2 separate regions of the Homo sapiens genome follow, and region 1 is linked to region 2. The links come from fine-mapping of genetic effects on gene expression. A gene starts in region 2. The other region holds a variant in brackets. All regions are shown on one strand. Distances are from middle to middle. Region 1 overlaps RNF103-CHMP3 (RNF103-CHMP3 readthrough). Region 2 holds the start of KDM3A (lysine demethylase 3A).

Region 1 (8,000 bases), 170 kb before region 2:
TTTGAAACTTGGAAGGGCTATGTCAAAAGTCTTGAGTTCTTTTGCTATATAGGCTGCTGCCTATAGACAACAAATACATTCTGGTTCAATAGTTAGCAGTATGTTCTTGGCTTGTAAATGATCTACTGTTTTTGATGTCCTGTTAAAGATATCCATGAATTAAGCTCCTGTAATAAATATGTGACAGAATTCATCAAAAGTTTATTCAGTTGTGGGTGTGCCAGGCCCTGTTCTGGGCCCTGAAGATATACCAGAAACACACACCAAGCTAAGGCCTTGCTCTGTCAGGCAGCTCACATTCTAGTTGGGAGAGGCAGACACCAAATAAATAAATATTTAATATAACATCAGTTAGTGGAAAGTAGTAAGAAGAAAAATAAGCAGATTAAGGAGATGAGAGTGGCAAGGAATTCTCTGGTAAGGTGACAAATGAAGTGAAGGACAAATAATGATAGTAAATGGTAGCATTATAAATTCTAGTTGCTAAATTTTTTTTCTCTGAAAATATTTTTAAACCTTATAGGTATTAATAGTTGAAAAACAACTCTTTAAAAATAGAATGTATTTCTGTGGTTTTTCTATGTATGGAAATAATGCAGTAGGACACCTGCTTAATTTTTCCAGTGATGCTCAAGGTTTGCATTGACCACCACTGTCTGGCTTGTGTTCCTTGAGGCCAGTGGCTTACATCTGTCAAATGGCTGGCCTGGTCTGAAAGAACAATCTCTGGCAGGACAACTGAGAAGAATGAGATTGAAACCCTGTCCTTGGCACTGTGAACTAGCCAGCTAAGCCAATCAGCACAGCCACCTTGGTTTAAGCCCTTAAAAGAGGGTTGTACTTTTTAAAACTATGCTTAAAATTGAAAATATCTACTAGAAACAGAAGAGAAATATTGTCTCCATTGCTTGCCATTCTTTCAGCTCAGATCATATATATTAATCTATTGTAAAGGATAACTTTCAAGAATTGTTTTTAACAATTTGAATTGTTGTTATTTTCTGTTTACAGTAGTCCCCCCTTATCTGAGGGGGATGCGTTCCAAGACCCCCAGTGGATGCCTGAAACCGTGGATAGTACCAAATCCTATATAGTCTATGTTTTTTCCTATACATACATACCTGTGATAAAGTTTAATGTGTAAGTTAGGCACAGTAACAACAACAACTAATAAAAATAGAACAATTATAACAGTATACTGAAATAACATTTATGTAAATGTGGTGTCTCTCTCTCCGAATATCTAATTGTATGTAGTATTTTCGGACTGCAGTTGACTGCAGAAAGTGAAACTGAGGGTAAGGGGAGACCACTGTATTTTAGAAGAAGCTGACTAATTTGTTCTCTGTCATTTGTTTTAAGTCTATGAGGAGTGTTTTCATAAATGAAGATGCACAGATGGCAGCCAGTTCAATCCTCTTCATATTTTTAAGCTTTTCCAGGTCCATGTTACGTATAGTCTCTGTAATGTGAACAGAATTTATTTTAGTTTTCAAGGTAGCAACATACATATGACATCTTTACCAATGACACACTATGAAATACATGTAGAACCAAGTGCTCTTTTTTCTAAGTTATTCCTAACATTGTTTTTCTCCTTTGTCCCTAACCCAAGCTCATATCTTTCATTAGCTATTCATTTAACAGTTTTGTGGATTCTTTGGCCCCAGTCTTCATAGCATTACAAATAGAAGATGGTTACTTTTCTTTCAAAAGACCCTTGGTCAGAGAGGCAGATGGCACAGTGGATAGGCTTCTGAAGTGGAGAAGTTAGCATAATTTATGGGTTTTATGGATTTATCCTCCTCCTAACATTTCTGTTTCTCCGTTTTGACTTTTGTCATAGTTCAAAGAAGGACATATTTGTTCCCTACTGGCTGTGTTACATCATATGGAATTTAAAGTCACTGGAATTGAGGTAGCAGTGAGAAGCATCATATGATTTAAAATAAAGCTTTGGGTCAATATTTACTGAAGTATTACATCAATATATTTCCTGTTTGGCTGACAAGAGTTAATAGCTGATTTTAAACTTGTTTATCTTTGCTCCTAGACAAAAGTTTTGTTCGAGGAGATTCTAAATTACGTATTTCTTTCTTGATACTGCTATGGAGGTGAAGCACATAGCAAGCCACTTTATCTTATATTTTGTATTGGTAAAAAATTTTATAAATTCTATGTAAGAATACAAAAAAATTAAAAGACCACTGTTTTTTGTCAATCACTTGTCCTTACTCTTAATGGTTTTATATAGTTTGCATGTATATACTAGGTTGGCTTATGATTTTGAAAGTAGAGACTCCCTATTATAATGAAATACTGAGAATGCAGAAAATATCATAGCACAATACTCTCATTGTTCCAGGGAGTTATGTTACTTAACTAAACCTGGATGTCGTTGTATGGAGATTAACAGTATTAAAAGGGGTATGCCACATGGTTTGATCAGTAATAAACCTCACCTCTAAATAATGGGCATTTTAAAATGCACTGAATTAAACATCTTTATGTCTGACTGAGGTCAAGAACATTAATATGCAGTTGCTTAGCAGGGTACCATTTATGCCACTGTTTGTCCAGAAAACATCTTGGTACAGGTTGCTGGGGAAGGGACTTTGATTATAACAGAAATCAAAAGCTTAAGAGTTTCCTTTAGAGACTCTGTGTAATCAGAACTAGAAGAATGAGTTATTAAACTGTAAGAAGCTGAAATTGTTTGGTTTGACATAAATACTTATTGAGCACCCATATGAGTTGGGCACTGTATTAGCTGCAGGGACTACAGTGGTGAGCAAGTGTGGGGATGCCAGAGGCAGATACCCTGGGAAAGGGAATGGAAAGATTGCTTCACTTCTAGCCTGTATTGCCAGGTCTGTTCCACACCTGGAACTCAAGCTGTACTTTGTCCAGTTTTTTTGTAGTCTTTAAAAATGTTCCCCACATACAGTGTTCCTTCCTGAGCTGCTGAGGAAAATGTCTCCCCTTTTAATGAGACCAGCCATATGAATGCCACTCAGAATCATCATGCATCCTTCTAGGATATGAGCTATAAATTGGGGACTCTTACTGGTATGACATAGTGTGTGTGTGTATATATATTATATATATATATATATAAGGCATATGTATATATATATATTAGGCTGAGAATATTTTGTTGTGCTGTGTGACTCAACCAGATGAGTTATTTTGTGAAAATATTAGCATTTTTATAGTGGTTGGTTAATTTAAACTCCACCAAATTTAATTTATGCTAAACCTTCAGTTGAATTATATAACTATGTAGGACATTGGACACATTTTTAATTGCATAAATATAACTATAAAGTAATATAAAATGCTTTCATGCAATGCCTACAAGATTTTTCATTTTTGTGTAGCTCTGTCAGTCAGGGATCCTTAAACTCTTCAAAACCAAATGCTAGAACACGTTGCTGAATAAATAAGGCCCTGGCATTGAACATTGTCTTGTACCTGCCCCAGGTATGTTCCCAACTCTTTTCACTCACTTCTACTATCTCTGCTATAACCAAGAGGTACCTGGGAAGAACCCCTCTCATTCCTCCTTCTTTTCCTAACATTGGAGCTCTTATCACATGTCTCAAAGATACCTGTGCAGTGAACAAGATCTTCACTGAAAGATGCCTCCAGACTTAGGAACTAAATATTTACACTGGCGAGGCAACCTCTAAACTCCTTGGAGCAGTGTCATTCTGCACACAGACCTGAAATGTTTGGGTTATTTGCAACCTTGATCAAGAAATGGGATAATGCCTGAAAAGTGAGTTATTTTTAAAAGAGGGCAAAGAGTAGAGAGTATGGTAGTATGATTGCACAGATACTTCTTAATCTTCCTAAGGAATCTGAAAAATAAGTTAAAC[T/G]TGTCTTTGATTATTTGACCAAAAGAACTACCAGATTGACTCTTGAGTGGTAGCAATAAAAATAAAATAAAATAAAGAACAAGAGGCAATAGGCGCCTGCTTTGCTTGATCTTCCTAATTTTCTAGGTACAACTTTTTTTTCTCTCTTTTTTTTGAGATGGAGTCTTGCTCTGTTACCCAGGCTGGAGTGCAGTGGCATAATCTCGGCTCACTGCAACCTCTGCTTCCCAGGTTCAAGCGATTCTGCTGCCTCAGCCTCCCAAGTAGCTAGGATTACAGGTGTGCACCACCACGCCCGGCAAATTTTTGTTTTTTTTAATAGAGGCGGGGTTTCGCCATGTTGGCCAGGCTGGTCTTGAACTCCTGACCTCAAATGATCCACCAGCCTCAGCCTCCAAAAGTGCTGGGATTAAAGGCATGAGCCACTGTACCTGGCCTTCTAGGTAAAACTTATAAAGTACTTTTGGACCAGAGAAAAATGTAAAGCTAGGGACTTACTGGGTAGGGAAACGTGTGAGCATCCTTCAAAAGAGCTTTCACCTATTAAGTGCATGTCCCCAGATTGCCTTCTTCCTGGTTACTTCAGCTGTCTGAGTATTTGAATAAATTGTATCTGCCTCAATAAGACCACTTATTTTCATTAAAAAGTACTATCAAAACCATGGTTGGGTGCAGTGGTTCATGCCTGTAATTCCAACACTTGGGAGGCCGAGGCAGAAGGAACCCTGAGGCCAGGTATTTGAGGCTGCAGTGAGCCATGATTGAGCCATTGCACTTCAGCCTGGGGAACAGAGTGAGACCCTGTCCCTTAAAAAAAAATGTAATATCAAAACCATTTGCTTAATGCCCTAAATTGTGTATATGTATTCATTAAGCTTCAAACTTATGTGATAAGATGTTATGTATGCACGTGTGTCTCGGTAAGTATGAGGATGGTAGTGGAGTGTCACAGAGGTTATTTGGCACATAAAGTGAACTTCAAGTCACTTGTCATCACAATGTGCTGTTTCTTCTGCTGCCCTCTGACATTTGTTAGACGTTCTAGCACAGAGGCCACAGATGAGGTGGCTGCACCACCTCTTGCGTCTCCCAAGGAGTTGACTGTCAGCACTCATTTTACACACCCACCTGCAACTTCACTTCCTGGAGGCTTTGTGAGTGTGAAAATGGTCCTTCCTCCCAGAAAGAGTAGAGGCCCCCAGAGTATTATGTTGTAATTTTGAATTGTATAGTATCAGAAATATAACATTTATGAAAATAAACTTGGCCTATATACCCTGGACTTAAACAGATGGTTTCATGATGACTTTAGACATTTTTGGCTTTCCTTTAACTTCCCATTTAGTTATTTTTATGGTCTTGTTTTTAATGTTTTTTGGTTTTTACTGGTATCTGCATTGAAATTCTGCCTTCATTAAAGGCAGGAAGATTAGGAGATAAAGGGAAAAGGTGGTAATGATTAGAAAGGCTGACACTTATAAGAGAAGTCTTGACATATTTTGAAGGTCTTGCTCTGTCACCCAGGCTGGATTGCAGTGGTGCAACCTCTACTCACTGCAACCTCCACCTCACAGGTTCAAGTGATTCTCATGCTTCAGCCTTCTGAGCAGCTGGGACTATAGGTGCCTGCCACCATGCCTGGCTAATTTTTGTATTTCTAGTAGAGACGGGGTTTTGCCATGTTGGCCAGGCTGGTCTTGAACTCTTCGACTCAAGTGATGCATCTGCCTCGGCCTCCCAACATGTTGGGATTACAGGCGTGAGCCACCACACCTGGCCTCTTTTTCTTTTCTTAAGAATCTTTTGCTTTTCCTAATCCTAATTGTGTTTGAAAGCTCTTGCAAATTTGAAGTACAAGTTCAATAATGTAAAATTCATTACATTAAAGAATGAATAAGAAGAATGGTAATTCTTATTGTATGTTAGAGCCGTTCATGATTAAGCAAAAAGCCATAGAACTAGTAGTATTTATTGATTTAGTCAAAGCACCCTTTAATAGAAAACATGTGTTTGACTCTTGGCTCCATAATTATACTTTTTAAAAAGTGAAATTTGAACTTGTTGAACCTACATGTGATAATTTTTAGTAAGCTCTATTTGGATTATTGTTTAAAATTTTCTTTTCAGAGCAAAGAGAAATTATTCCAAGGGCCATTTTCTTCCTGTGTAACTTAATTAGAGAGAAGAGGCCACATGGTGGAGAATGTGGCTAGCCTTTTAATACAGTTTTGACTCCCTCCCTCTCTTTGTAACTGCCACAGAGTGTGGGAGAGTTTAATTTACGTTTCAGTGTTTCAAGTCTTTTTCCTATTGGATAGTTGCTCCTTCTATAAGAATTGTAATGATAATGTGATGATACAGTAAACAAGAACTGGGAACAGAATATCTTTTTTTTTAAGTGAAATTATATTGTTGATGTAAACGGTTGGCTTGACTCCATTTTAGGTAATTCAAGTTTCTTTTTCTCTATTTTTGGGAATAGGTCATAGCAAATGACAGAAGTCCCTTGGTGGGCAAAATTCACTGGGAGAAAATGGTTAAAAAGGTGTCAAGATTTGGAATACGTACAGGCACATTTAACTGTTCCAGTGATCCCAGGTAAGTTGATTAGGCAATTCTTAGAATTTGAGTCCTGACCAGGATCTTTCTTATTTAAAAAGGGCAATGATACTAGAAGCCTGCTTGAACTGAAAGCTTATTATAATGTGTAGCACACTCTTAGTTACATAGGTGCTTGATTAATGGTTTTTGATAAACTGGCAGCTAATGACTTTCACTCTAAGATCTCTCTCTGTCTCCTCTATCTCCCTCTCTCTCCCCGTCCCTTTCTCTGGCTCTTCTGTGTTTTTTCTATTGAAGATATCTCTTAAGATTGTGTCTTTAGTCCTTTTCATTTCACCTTTCTTTTCCAAAGAGATCTCAGCACATTCATGGCTTTAGGTGACACCTCTGTGCTGATATAAATCTTCTATCATTCTGACCTCTAGTTTGCATTTCTTTGCTTATTTCCATTTGCTCTGCAACTATCCCTAGATATATTCTTTTCCCTGAAACCTAGTATCTGAAATCAGATTCATCCTCTTTTTCTTTAATCATCCATGTATCCTTCTACCTTTCTTTTTTCTGTCCTTCGCCGGTTTTCCCCCCCATTTTCTCAAATAAGAATCCTCAGAGGTGTTTTTGTTTATGTTTTGTTTTTTTGTCATCATTTCCAGTATTCAGTCTGTCACATTATTTCTTGTTTTATTATTCCATTATTTCTTCTTTGAAATGCCTTTTTTTCCATTTCTCTTGCTACCAAGTTATAACTTAGTCTCATTCATTGATTGTAGAAAACTCTCCTAAACCATTACTATACCTCCTTTCCTTAGCCTTACATTTACTTCTCTTCTGCTTAGAACCCTTGTTTTGCCCACTAGTAATATAGGGTGAGATGGATGGTAGAGTTCCTCTAAGAGTTGGGAATAGGAGGGAAGTTCCTGTATCTCTTAACTCACATTTAGTCTCCTTATCTACCTGCAAAGCTGTCATGCTCATCTTCACCACAAAGTCTTTTTTTCTGATTTTTTTTTTTTTTGAGACAGGATTTGGCTCTGTGACTCAGGCTGTAGTGCAGTGGTGTGATCATAGCTCACTGCAACCTCCAGCTGATGGATGGGCTCAAGTGATCTTCCCACCTCAGCATTCCAAGTAGCTGGGACTACATGCATGCATCACCACACCTGGCTAATTTTTTTTTTTTTTTTGTAGAGATGGAGTCTTGCTATGTTGCCCAGGCTGGTAACCACAGAATCTTAGTCACATCCCAATGTCTTTTGTTGAAATGTCTGAGATAGCTTAAGTCTTAATGTTCTTTTGAAAAGGAAATCATTCTGATCTCCATTCGTCATTTACCAAAGACTTAGGATTTGATCTGATTCCATCATTTCCAAATAGAGTCAAAGTGAAAGGTCTTTTTCTTCCTCACTGATTTTTACAATACTAGAACAAATGATAATGCTGATATTTTGATTTTTTTAGTTATGCCAAAAGTCAGTATTCATATCACTATTTTCTTTTAAAATACCCAATGTATTTTTTAAAAATCAGTGGAACTAAATAATACATTTCAAACATTAT
Region 2 (11,567 bases):
CCCTAAGGCTACAACTCTTAAAACCTGTATACATATTTAAAGACATTAAGAAAATTCAGTCTAAAAGTGGGCTTCTGGGAGTGATCTATGAGTAGGAATTGTTTACAAAACCATAAAACTCAAAGTCATATAAAAGCATTGAAACACTCCAGCTTCCTTAACCTATTATAAATATGCTACCCCTTAACTTACTCTAGGTCCTCTTCAATGCTTTTTGTATTCTACCAATGACAATAAACTCCCTCGATATTCAGTGTAAAAATCACTGTTTTTATTTGATTTAAAATTCCTCCTCTTACTAAAGAGGTCTCTCATTTTGGTTTCCAGGAATTAGTTAATACATCTATCATCTATCAAATCTGTTCATCATTTTACAGACATCACTCATACATCCCTTTTCAACCTTCAGTTTATTAACTAGTTAACTTCATCTATCAGAGCACAATTCATATATCCTTTCCTCAAACAAACCTTCCCTTACCAAAGTGCCTCTCTCTCCCAAGAGAGGTCCCCATACTAACTGTACTCAAAGTTTTGTACTTTTCCGTCTTAGCTCTTATCCACACTTTGCATTATTTATTTGTTAACTGATTGACAATTAAATTCTAATAGGTCAAAGTCTGTCTCTGCTTTTGCTTACAACTGTATATCACTAGTATATGGAATCTAATTGGTACTCAAATACTTGTTAGCATAGATTAATGAATAAATTTCCCTCTGCATTGGGTTCCTATCTTGTTTCTCTCACCTGCTTAGAAGGCACTAAATTCCCACATTAGCCCCAATCCCAAACCTTCTCCAGTCTACAGGATAAAAATAAATGAAATCTAAGATCTATCCTACCCTTCTCAGCCAACAAAACATGCATCCCTAACCTCCCAGGCGACTTTACCTAGGAAACTACATATCTTCTTGGTATTTTAGGCTTTTAACTTTGCAGTTATTACTGAATACTTTCCAAATCAGAATAAATGTGAACACCCACGTGGCAAGGCCCACATACGTTTCTCCCTGGTTATATGTTTTCTATCACTGTAATCAACCAAATGGTCTTTCATAAAGGTGGGCAGAGACTGCCCATCTTCCTTTCTGTTTCCTAGCCACAGAATCCATATGCTCTGACATCTCCCCTAAATTGGCTAGTCTTTCTGCTCCATATTCACATCAACCTCAAACCCAACCAAGCTTTAGGTAGACAGTTTTCTTATTTATCAGCAATGTGGTATAAGAGGAATGAGCACACACAAATTCTAGATCCAGATTCAGAGACCTTGAATTCCCAGCTACACTGAATCTCTCTTAGAATGATTTTACATGTATAAAATAAAATACTTATGATTACAAAGGAAACCAACTAACTTGCACCCCAGGTTAAGAACCCTCACTTAGAAAATCTAAGTTCTCTCAATGTTTTTCAAAATGAAAAAAGTGACACCTCTCATTGCATAGTTAGGCATATTTTAAAAGACAGTGTATGTAAAGTGTCTGGCAAGACAACTAGGTAGTTTTAATACCTCCATGGTTAATTCAAATCTTATCAAGGTATCACTTATTAAGTTAGGAGCAGGGGAAAGAGGATCTTCAACACAATTATCTAATATCTATTCAGCAAAAAAAAAAAAAAGTGCAGAATTAAGAAGGATTAAGATCTTAAGTGGTTTCCCAAAACTTAAGCAACATCACAGTTCTTACCAGATCACTATCTAAAGCTTAAGATAACCCTAAACCAAAAGACAGACAGGGCCCCTTTCCATATCCCAATTTTTGAGTGATTTGAAAAAAAAAAAAAAAAGTTTACCTCCTTAAAAACAATTTAAGTTTATGACTTTCAAATATTATGCTGTATTAGCCAAAAATCACATTATTTTGGTTTGGAAAAAGATGACTTTAAAAAATATATAAGAAAACCAACAAGTTGTGAGCTTTCTTCAATATTGTTCAAAAGTTTCCTATCAAAACCATATATGTCAGTCAGGCATGGTGACTCACACCTGTAATCCCGGCACTTTGGGAGGCCAAGACAGGAGGATCACTCGAGTCCAGGAGTTCTAAACCAGCCAAGGCAACGTGGGGAAACTTCGTCTCTACAAAAAATACAAAAATTAACCAGGAGTGGTGGTGCCCACCTGTGGTCCTAGATATTCAGGAGGCTGAGGTGGGAGAATTGCTTGAGCCAAGGAAGTTGAGGCTGCAGTCAGCTATGATTGTGCCACTGCACTTCAGCCTGGGTGACAGAGTGAGACCCCATTTCCAGAAAAAACAAAGCATCTTTCATTTGTGCCTTAAGGTTTGAGGTTTTACACTTAATGACATCCCCCAAAAAAGCTTCTTCTGTGGACATTTCTACAAAAAAACACTTATTTTATTTTTTGAGACAGAGTCTCAATCTGTTGCCCAAGCTGGAGTGTAGTGGCGCGATCTCAGCTCACTGCATCCTCTGCCTCCCAGATGCAGGTGATTCTCGTGCCTCAGACTCCCAAGTAGCTGGGATTACAGGTGAGTGCCACCCACACCTGGCTAATTTTTGCATTTTTAGTAGAGACTGGGTTTCACCATGTTGGCCAGGTTGGTCTTGAACTCCTGACCTCCTGACCAGATGATCCACCCGTCTTGGCCTACCAAATTATTGGGATTACAGACATGAGCCACTGCGCCTGGCCTAAAAAGACATTTAAATTCAGTAAGAACTAAAGTGACTTGACCAAGCTCATGCAAGCTGACAGATGCAGCTAGTTTCTATTCTAAATTGTGTTATTTCACCCATGCTCCTTTGGCCCACAATGAGATGTGACTTACACTGTGTGGCTTCAAAGGCCAGAGTCAACTATGATTCACTACCTATAATTGTGAAATCTGCTCTTCTTTTAATGGGTATTTTGCAAATGTGTACCTTATTAGTACCTATGAAACACCTTGACCAAATGCTCGATATTTCAGATTTTTCAAGCCAATGTTTCCCCAACAGAAAATCTTTCTGATATATGAATTAATATTGTATCTAATAAACTAATATCAAAATCTCCCACTCTTACCATACTCTCATCTCACCTGACTATATGATTATAAAGGCCATCAGAAACACCAATGAAAATGTTTCCAAGTTTAAAAGCAGGAGCACAGAATGATATGGTTTTTAGACAAATTTTTAATTACATGTCTATTTTATGCCTTGCACTACAATGCAGGATACCACTTAATTCACTACTCCACAAAGAAATTAATTCCTTGTGCTTCCACTTATGTCTTCTTATGCCTAAATGTTTGTCGAAGATCCCAAGGTCCAGCATTCAATTAAAAGGGGTAAACAGTTTTTATACCGTGCTAGAAGTTTTTTCATTTTACATGGCTTGACTGGCAGCAGATTGCACTAACATTAAAGTTTCAATGGTGTGCAAAAATGAAAGGCTAGGCATTAGTCAAGGCACCAAATTGCTGACAATAGCAGGAAATGGTACATACAGATGGCAAGGACTAATTGCCTGCTAAGGACACCTGTAAGGACTAAGAAGGGGCATTAGACGCAAGAAACAGGTAGGCTTCAAAGAAAAAAGGACAAGTTAAGGAAGCAGGGCATTAGACTCAAGAAAAAGGTAGGCTTCAAAGAAAAAAGGACAAGTTAAGGAAGCAGGGCATTCCCACCACGCATAATTATGTGAACAAAATCAGCTAGGAAGCAACTCATTTCATACTCAAGTAGAAAGAGCAGGATAAAAATAAGATTAAAGCAGTCTTTATAGCCACATCTAATTAAGATCTGTTGTTATTCCAGATGAAGAGAATGCTACTGCCTCATCAGTAGATTCTTTCTAAACTGTTTCTCCATAGGAGAGGTAATAATTTTATGATTCCTTCACTTATCCATTCAAATAGCTGAGCACACACTACATGCCAAGCAGTGTTCTCGGTGCTAGGGATATAGAGGCTAGCAAAATAAAATGCTCTAACCTCGCTCTACCTGAATATTAAAGCCTAGTGTTTAAGGTCTGGAGACAAACTCAAGTTATTTAACTTCTTTAAGCCTCAGTTTTTGACACTAAAAATGTAGTTTACCATCTAGGATATTTGTGAGGATTAAATGAAGTAATCGCCACATAATATCCATTTAATGATTATTTTTTCTTTGCTAAATCCTGATGTAACCATTTAATCATAGTTATCCACTGTTATTATGTCTTCACCTTAACTTCTCTGTAACCAACTACTAGACATATTCTCTTTTTGTCATCTAAGTAAGTGGTTTTGTTATAAAGTCTCTCTAGGTGAAACAAAGTTAACAAGCCTTGGCCTCATTAATATCATCCATAACTATCTAAACAAGCCAGTCTAGACAGACTTGTATTTGTCCTAATAATAGAAGAATGGTTACATATTACTTGAATGTTATTTATTGACATTCATCTCAGCCCCTCGCCCCACCCCCATCTCACCCCCCAAAAACTTAATGCCCCTAAACCCTAGTGTAAGCATGGTCTTAGTTACTTGGTTCCTGCCTCCATCTCACCAAGCACAAATTGGTTTTGGTGTTTTGAGCCCAGGAGTTCCAGACCAGCCTGGGCAACAAGACCCCCCAACTCTAAAATCAAGGTAAAATAAAATCCTGGTTTTTTTTAATGCAACATGGCCCCCAAACTTAACATCTGCTACTCAACTAAGGAATGCAGTGATAAATCATGACTAGAAAAGAGACAGAAGATTGGCATCTTACATGAGGGTTGAGTTGTGATGTGTACAAGTAAGGCAAAAATCCAACCTAGCCAAAATTGTTTTTGACATGAATTCCCAGTTGTCTTCAGGTTAGGCACCAAAGTGCAGTGGAGAAGACACTGGGCCCAATCTGGATTCGCAGCCTCCCTCCGCAGCTAATTATGCAAATCTGGACAAGATTCCTTTTCCTAAATCTATTTCCTCATTCTGAAAATGAAGATATCACCACCTCCTCAAAGGATGGGGGCGGAGGGAGGAGATTTAAAAAATATATACATGTGAAGTTCCTCCTAGATTGCCTGCCTAACCCAACAGGTCCTCAATTGCTGCTACAGAAGGGAAGGGAACGCCTAGTCTCTCAACATCTGCCAAAGAACTAAAGACTGGAAAGTTTAAATAAAATCTTGTTTCCATTCAAATCACATAAAAACAAATGCACTAGAGAAAATTTTATTTGGCAGGCGAAATAAACCACAACAAGCACGACTGAAATCTAGTACACAAAGCCCAGCTTACAGAAAGGTTATAAGCCCAAAGCAAAAAGGTTGGCCATTCTTGCACCACAATATATTATCTCTATAAACATCAAAACCTGATTTGGCAGGAGAATGAGCCGAATGCAGGAAAAAACCAAACCTCACAGCCTATGACAGGAGCTCTGCTGTGGCATAGCTCTTGATCACTGGCCTGATGGTTAAGAGGGCAGCTTCTGGAGTAAAACTTCCTGGGTTTGACAGAATACAGGCTATGTCAATTCCTACGTATGTGTCCTTGGCAAGATGCTTAACGTCCCTCAGGCACAGTAGTTTCATCCATAAAATGGGGGCAATATTAGTACCTACCCCCAAGAACTGCTGTAAGGATTAAACGAGATCATAGTTGTGAAGTGCTTGCCACATGGTTAAATGCTCTTCGGTCACTCCTCCTTTTCAACAAGAGACAAGGCACAACACTGAAGCTTTAAAACATGCCTAACAGCATACCCCTTTCCTACAACTCTTTGCAGATAAATACCAGTTTGGGCATACACTGTCACCCTGAAAGTGTTCAAATGAACAGTGTTTCAGAAATCAACATATAATCAACTGCCAATGCTAAAACTTGCTGCCTTTATTTGAACATAGTTTAAGAAAAAGCAAAGATGATGGCCAAGTGAAGATTCTGAAACACATCTACTAGGCAGGGTGGAAATATCTTCTGTTCTGACAAGCTTCCTTCAAGTTATCACCACTTTGGAGTCTTTGTTAGGAACCTTTTTTCAGTTATTTTCGCACAAAGGAGTCTTTGTTGGTACAATGGCTTCCTCACTGCTTGTTCCCAGACAATCCTTTCACATCAATACTTCTATTAGGGAGCACAATCAGAATTCATCTGTCTTTGAAAAGATCTAACAGAAAAAGGTTCTGAGTGTCATAATGATTTAAAAAAAAATCACTGGCCGCACTTGTTCCCAATTCTCTCCCTCCCCTCATGCGTCCAAGTGCAGTATTTCTAAGCCAGTCCTCCAATATGCCATATATGGGACAGCTCCACCCCATCCCTCCATATATGGTCATATCCCACACCCACCCACCGGCTCATCACAGACAACCAGGAACCCACTCCTGCCCTGACCCACCATATACGGACAAACACCCATCCTAATACGCCAAACAGAACTTAAGCTCCTCCCTCTACACTCACTTCATTTTTAACAAGTCTGAAAGTTTTTTTAAAAGTTGAGTGAATAAATTAACAGGAACAAACAAACAAAACCAGCTGAAAGTACTTCCAAGCACTAACCTTCAATTCTTAATGACTCCAAACGTCACTTACAGGCCCTACCTAACGCTAACAAAAATACTCCTCCTCCTCTGCAGTAAAGATGAGACAGTCCTGGTGGGACACAGCACCGGCATTAATGAAGCGTGTCTGAACAACCCTAAGCCCATTATTAAAGCCAGGCAGCCAGGAGCTGTGGGCCAAACACAACTCGGCTCTATACAACCATTCCAAAGACTTTCAAGATCTAGCTTCCTGCACCTTCAGATCATATGCCAACTTTCTGGTCTCCGTTTTCAGAAAACGGAAGGAGGGAACCGATGGTCGCGTTACCACGGTAACTGCGAAACGTCCGGTGGCAGAGGCCCGGAGCCGCCTGTACCTTCAGATCCTTCTTGGTAACGTCGGTGTGGGAAACAGCTCGAATGGTCCCGGAGAGCCAGGGCCACTCGGCGACGCGCTCCACGTCCCAGCTGTCGTGGCTGCCATCGCTGCCGTCGGCTGCGGACAGACTGAGAAACCTCCTCCCCACCAATACCGGCCAACTTTCTCCGAGCGTGAGCACCATGGTTTCCACGCCTGCAGGAAGAGCTCCTCCCTGCAAAAACACAAAAACAAAATGCGACGGGGGCGGCCGGTGGGAGGGGGCCGGGCGGAGACAGCAGGGAGGGCGGGCGGAGGGCGCCGAACCCGCGCGAGGACGCGGCCCCGGGCGGACCCGCACCGAGCCCCCCTCCTGCGCCCTCCCGCCCCCCGCCGCCCTCCCCCGCCACACACCCGGGCCCCAGCGCCGCGTGACCCTCGCTCTCCCAAGTTTGGCTTTTCTAACAGCTCAAACGCAACCGCAGAGGGAGTGAGGGAAAAATTATCTGCGGCTCGAGTGGATTTGAAAGTGCTCAGCCCCCAGCCCCGAAAAGAAAAGGCCCCTGGTGCAGAGAGCCGGTCCCGGGCGGCTGGGTCCCCGCCCCGGGCGGCCCCACGGGGGAGGGTGGGCGAGCCCGCGATTCCGCACTTGCCCCGCCGCCCCGCCCCGGCGCCCAGCTCCCCGGCCCCGAACCCCGGGCGCCCGTCTCCCGGGCCTGCGCCGCTGCCAACGGGCGACGGGGCCGCGCGCTCGGCGCTTTCACCTTTCTCTCCCCTCTCCCCGCAGCCGAGGCCGCGGCGCTCTTACCCCGCCTCCCGCCTCCCTGAGTCACCGGCGGCAGCCGCCGTTTCCAGCCGCCTAGCCGACTCCAGCGCTGACTTGGTTCAAGAGCTCTCACAAGACACGCACAGCCTCCCGGACCCGCCCCCCTCGGAGCCGCTTCCGCCGCTCATTGGCTGAAACACAGGAGCTGGGCGAGGCTCCGGGGGAAACAGATCATCACCATTGGCCCCCCGGGCGAGGGCGGGGCCAGAGAAAAAAACAATTCCTTGGCTGCCTCCTCCCTTTCCCCTCCCCCTTCCGACTCCCGGGCGACCCCCATTAGGTTAAAGTACACAGAGAATAAGCGAGTGATCCCTCCGCCATAGGCCTATTCTTTCCATTTGTTGCCTCACAGTATGCAAAAAAAAAGTCCCGCGAAATCGGTTATCAACTTTGGGGCCCGGAGGAAAATTGCTGTGGCGCATAGATAAGACTGAATGGCGAGACCCTGAGCTATAAGTGCCTACTGGATTGTTCTTCAACCGCGTAGGCTGTCGACCGAAGATGAGCCTTCCACTTGGCGGAAGAATCTCACAGGAAAGGGTGAGGGCGGTGCAGGGTTAGCGGGGGAGGGCAGGGAAGAGAACGTGCGGTTTCAGGCGTACTCAGCTAGAGGGAGGAGCGATAGTGCTCTGGAGGCTCGTGCGCAGGCGCCTCGCCGAGCTTAGGCTGCTGGGCGAAATGGCTGCGGGAGGCGCAGGCGCACGTGGTACTGATCGTGGAACGTCTAAAGTCCGCCATTTTGAAGGATAAATGAAGAAAGGCGTGGAGTTACTGGATAATGACGTTCATTAAATTTAGAGCAAAAGAGACCTTTAAATACAATGTATAATGAGATTTTTTTTTCTCCAAAGTGGGATTGAGAAGGTATTCAGATACTTACAAAGAAATTTAAAGTAGTTGAAGGCCATAATGAATGATGGAAGAGATGAAAGAGAAGGTGACTTTGAAGGACAAAGGAGTTTAGAGGTGATTGTGTGCTCTGGACCTGAAGTATTTTGATTGAATGAAAAAGAAATGGAATGAAGAAATTGAAGATATGTTCATAAAGGCTAGTGTTTGACATTACATCACATTTAATCCTTAAGAAGAACTCATGCCTCCCATTTTACAAGCGTGGAAACGTATAATCAGAGAATGTTTGGAAACATATAAGGGATTATAGATGCAAATCAACTCTGGATGTTGATTTTCAATATACATATTCTGAATGTGATTTTAAGTTTTTAAAGTTAGTAACAAGAATTAAATTGGATTTATAATCTGTAGACCATTTAAAGGAAGGGGGCTGCTAAATGAGAAGAAAAAACCTATCCAGCTGAAAGAAGGCAGAAATGGGAACGAGATAAGCAAAAGAAACCAGAACATATGGTAAAAATGTTTTTCATGTGAAAAGTCCAAACATCAGTATTTACAATAAATGTAAATGGGTTAATTTCACTCACAAGTTTTAAAAGACAGTTGGGAATAAAAGGACAATCCAGCTATAAATTGACCATAAGCAAATGCTTACAAAACAGGAAGCTTGAAAATACTGGGCTAAAATATTTAATCAAATGGTAGCCAAATGAAAGCAGTATAGCAATATTAATACAATTAAAAGTATCAAAAGAGAAAGGATTTTATATTAAAGATAAAGTCCATGAAGACAGTATGGTCTCCTGAACTGTTATGAATCTAAAAACATGGCCTATCCTAAGGTGACGCTATGAACGATGAGAAATTTTACAAATTTGACAATTTGTTTTCAGAGTAGAAGACATAAATATCTCAGAAATATGCAACTCAAATGTAAAATATAAGGGAAGATATGGAGAACTTAGATTATGTAATTAAATATTAATTTGAAAAACAACTCAAGGGAAAAATTCTATTGAACCTGAAGGAACATATACTTTCTATGTTGAATTCATTATTTCAGAGCTTAGAAAAGATGGAAAGATATCCAATGCATTTTATAAAAGTTATAAAACCGTTTCACAAATTCTGAACTGGGCGAGTATAAGAAAGAAAAACTATGGTTCAATTATACTTAGGAACATAGATGGGAAATTCTTTTATAAAATACCAGCAAATTAAATCCAGCAGCATTTTTTTTAGGTAATTGATATGATTAATTAGTGTTATATGAATGCAAAGATACTTCAAGATTAGAAAATTACTAAAATTCACCATGACAGGTTAAAAAAGAAAAATCGTATATTCACCTTAGGGCTAAATAGAGCATGCAGTCACATTGAACACTTGTGATCTTAAGAGTATTTTTAAATTACATAGAAAACTAAGAAGATTATAAGTGTACACTTATATTCAATACCACCCATAATTTTTAAAAAATGTTTTTAAACTTTCTAAAAACCTAGGAATATAAGTTACGTACCACAGAAAAACACCCACACACATATGAACGAAAAAACATCTGCAAATAACCTAAGTGTACTCCAGTTGGAGAAGGAATAAATAAAATTATTAACAATAAATGGAATGTAATGCATATATTGGAAAGTTGTAGAGGATTTGTAAAGGAGTCAAAGCAGCTAGATGTTCCAATAAAAATAGTTACCAAAATACATTATGAATGAAAAAGAAATTTGCATTTGGTACTATTTCAAAATACACATACAAAAACAACAGTATATATGTTCTGTTAAATATGGTTATTAAAACTTACAGTAATGGTTACTGGTATTAGGGGGTGCACACTAGAATTAGGGGTATTAGTCAAAGACAACACATATTATTTGTAATTCTAATTTTTTATAAATACACTTTTTTTGTATTTACATTTTTATCACCTTATTTTTAATTGACAGGTAAAACTATATGGTGTACAATATGATGTTTTGGTATAGATATACATTGTGGAATGGCTATATCAAATTATTTTACATATGCATTCCCTCACATACTCATCTTTTTTTGTGTGGTGAGAACACTTAAAATCCACTCTTAGCAATTTTCAAATATACAATATATTGTCATTAACTGTAGTCACCATGATGTACATTAGATCATTTGAACTTATTCCTCCTGTCTAACTGAAATTTTGTGTCCTTTGACCAACATCTACCCAATCTCCCCACTCCCTGTAATTCTCTCATTTTATAAGGTAAATGTACTCACATGTTACTTTTAAAATTTAATTTTTAACTCTCATTAATGGAATCTGCTACATTAACAAATTAAAGGAGAAAATACATATGATTATCTCAATAGATACACCAAAAATTTTATATACTTCATTTTCATTCATTATAAAAACTCTTAGCAAACTATCAAGAAAAGAAAATTTTATAACTCTATAAAGGATATCTACCAGAAATATACTTAAACATTGTACTTAATTGTGAAATTTTAGAAAAATTCCCAATAAAGTCAGGAGCAAGATAAGGATGCCCAATGCTGTCATTACTATTCAAGTTACAATAGAGGTTAATTGCTAATGTAATAAGACAAGAAAAATAATACAATGTAAACATTGGAATGGAAGAAAAAGCCCAAAACATTTGTAGATAAATCAAAAGCATCAGTGACAAATTATTAGAATTAAAACAAGAATCAAAAAGATAATGCAATAAAAGATCAACAAACGAAAATCAAAAGAATTCCTATTCCTTAGCAAGCATCAATTAGAACATACAGTAGAAAAATAAAAACCATTAATGATAATAAAACATGTAATCCCTAAAAATTAATACATGAAATGAACACAACCTATATGAAGAAAATTAGACTTTGCTGACATGTATAAAGAAGATGAAAAATTCTGTCTCTTGATATGATCTGATAAATATGTCATTTCTCCTCTAACAAAACAACAAATAAAAACATCAAGACATAAATATATAAGTAATGAAGAGAACAAAGAAACAGACCCAGTGTATATTAAAAATTAGTTTGTGATCGACATATTTCT

Evidence for each region. PIP is the estimated chance that this variant, and not a neighbour inherited with it, causes the effect.
Region 1: its variant is fine-mapped to the expression of KDM3A in whole blood (INTERVAL, PIP 0.92).

What each region holds. Positions count from the first base shown.
Region 1 is chr2:86,610,638-86,618,637 of GRCh38, reverse strand. The region is part of intron 3 of RNF103-CHMP3 (RNF103-CHMP3 readthrough); the gene reads left to right. It overlaps RNF103 (ring finger protein 103), which reads left to right. Exons shown (of 4, transcript NM_005667.4): 3 at 6,364-6,479. It overlaps CHMP3-AS1 (CHMP3 and RNF103 antisense RNA 1), which reads right to left. Exons shown (of 6, transcript NR_183901.1): 6 at 1,189-1,462. Among named protein-coding and RNA genes, the nearest start is that of RNF103, 9.2 kb to the left of the region's middle. RefSeq lists a silencer at 1,297-1,346. The variant T/G (reference allele first, on the strand shown) is at 3,882.
Region 2 is chr2:86,437,514-86,449,080 of GRCh38, reverse strand. It overlaps KDM3A (lysine demethylase 3A), which reads right to left and starts at 7,710. Exons shown (of 26, transcript NM_018433.6): 1 at 7,637-7,710; 2 at 6,848-7,063. The coding sequence starts at 7,033. RefSeq lists enhancers at 6,867-6,926, 7,917-7,996, 8,077-8,276, 8,098-8,641 and silencers at 7,127-7,176, 7,397-7,786.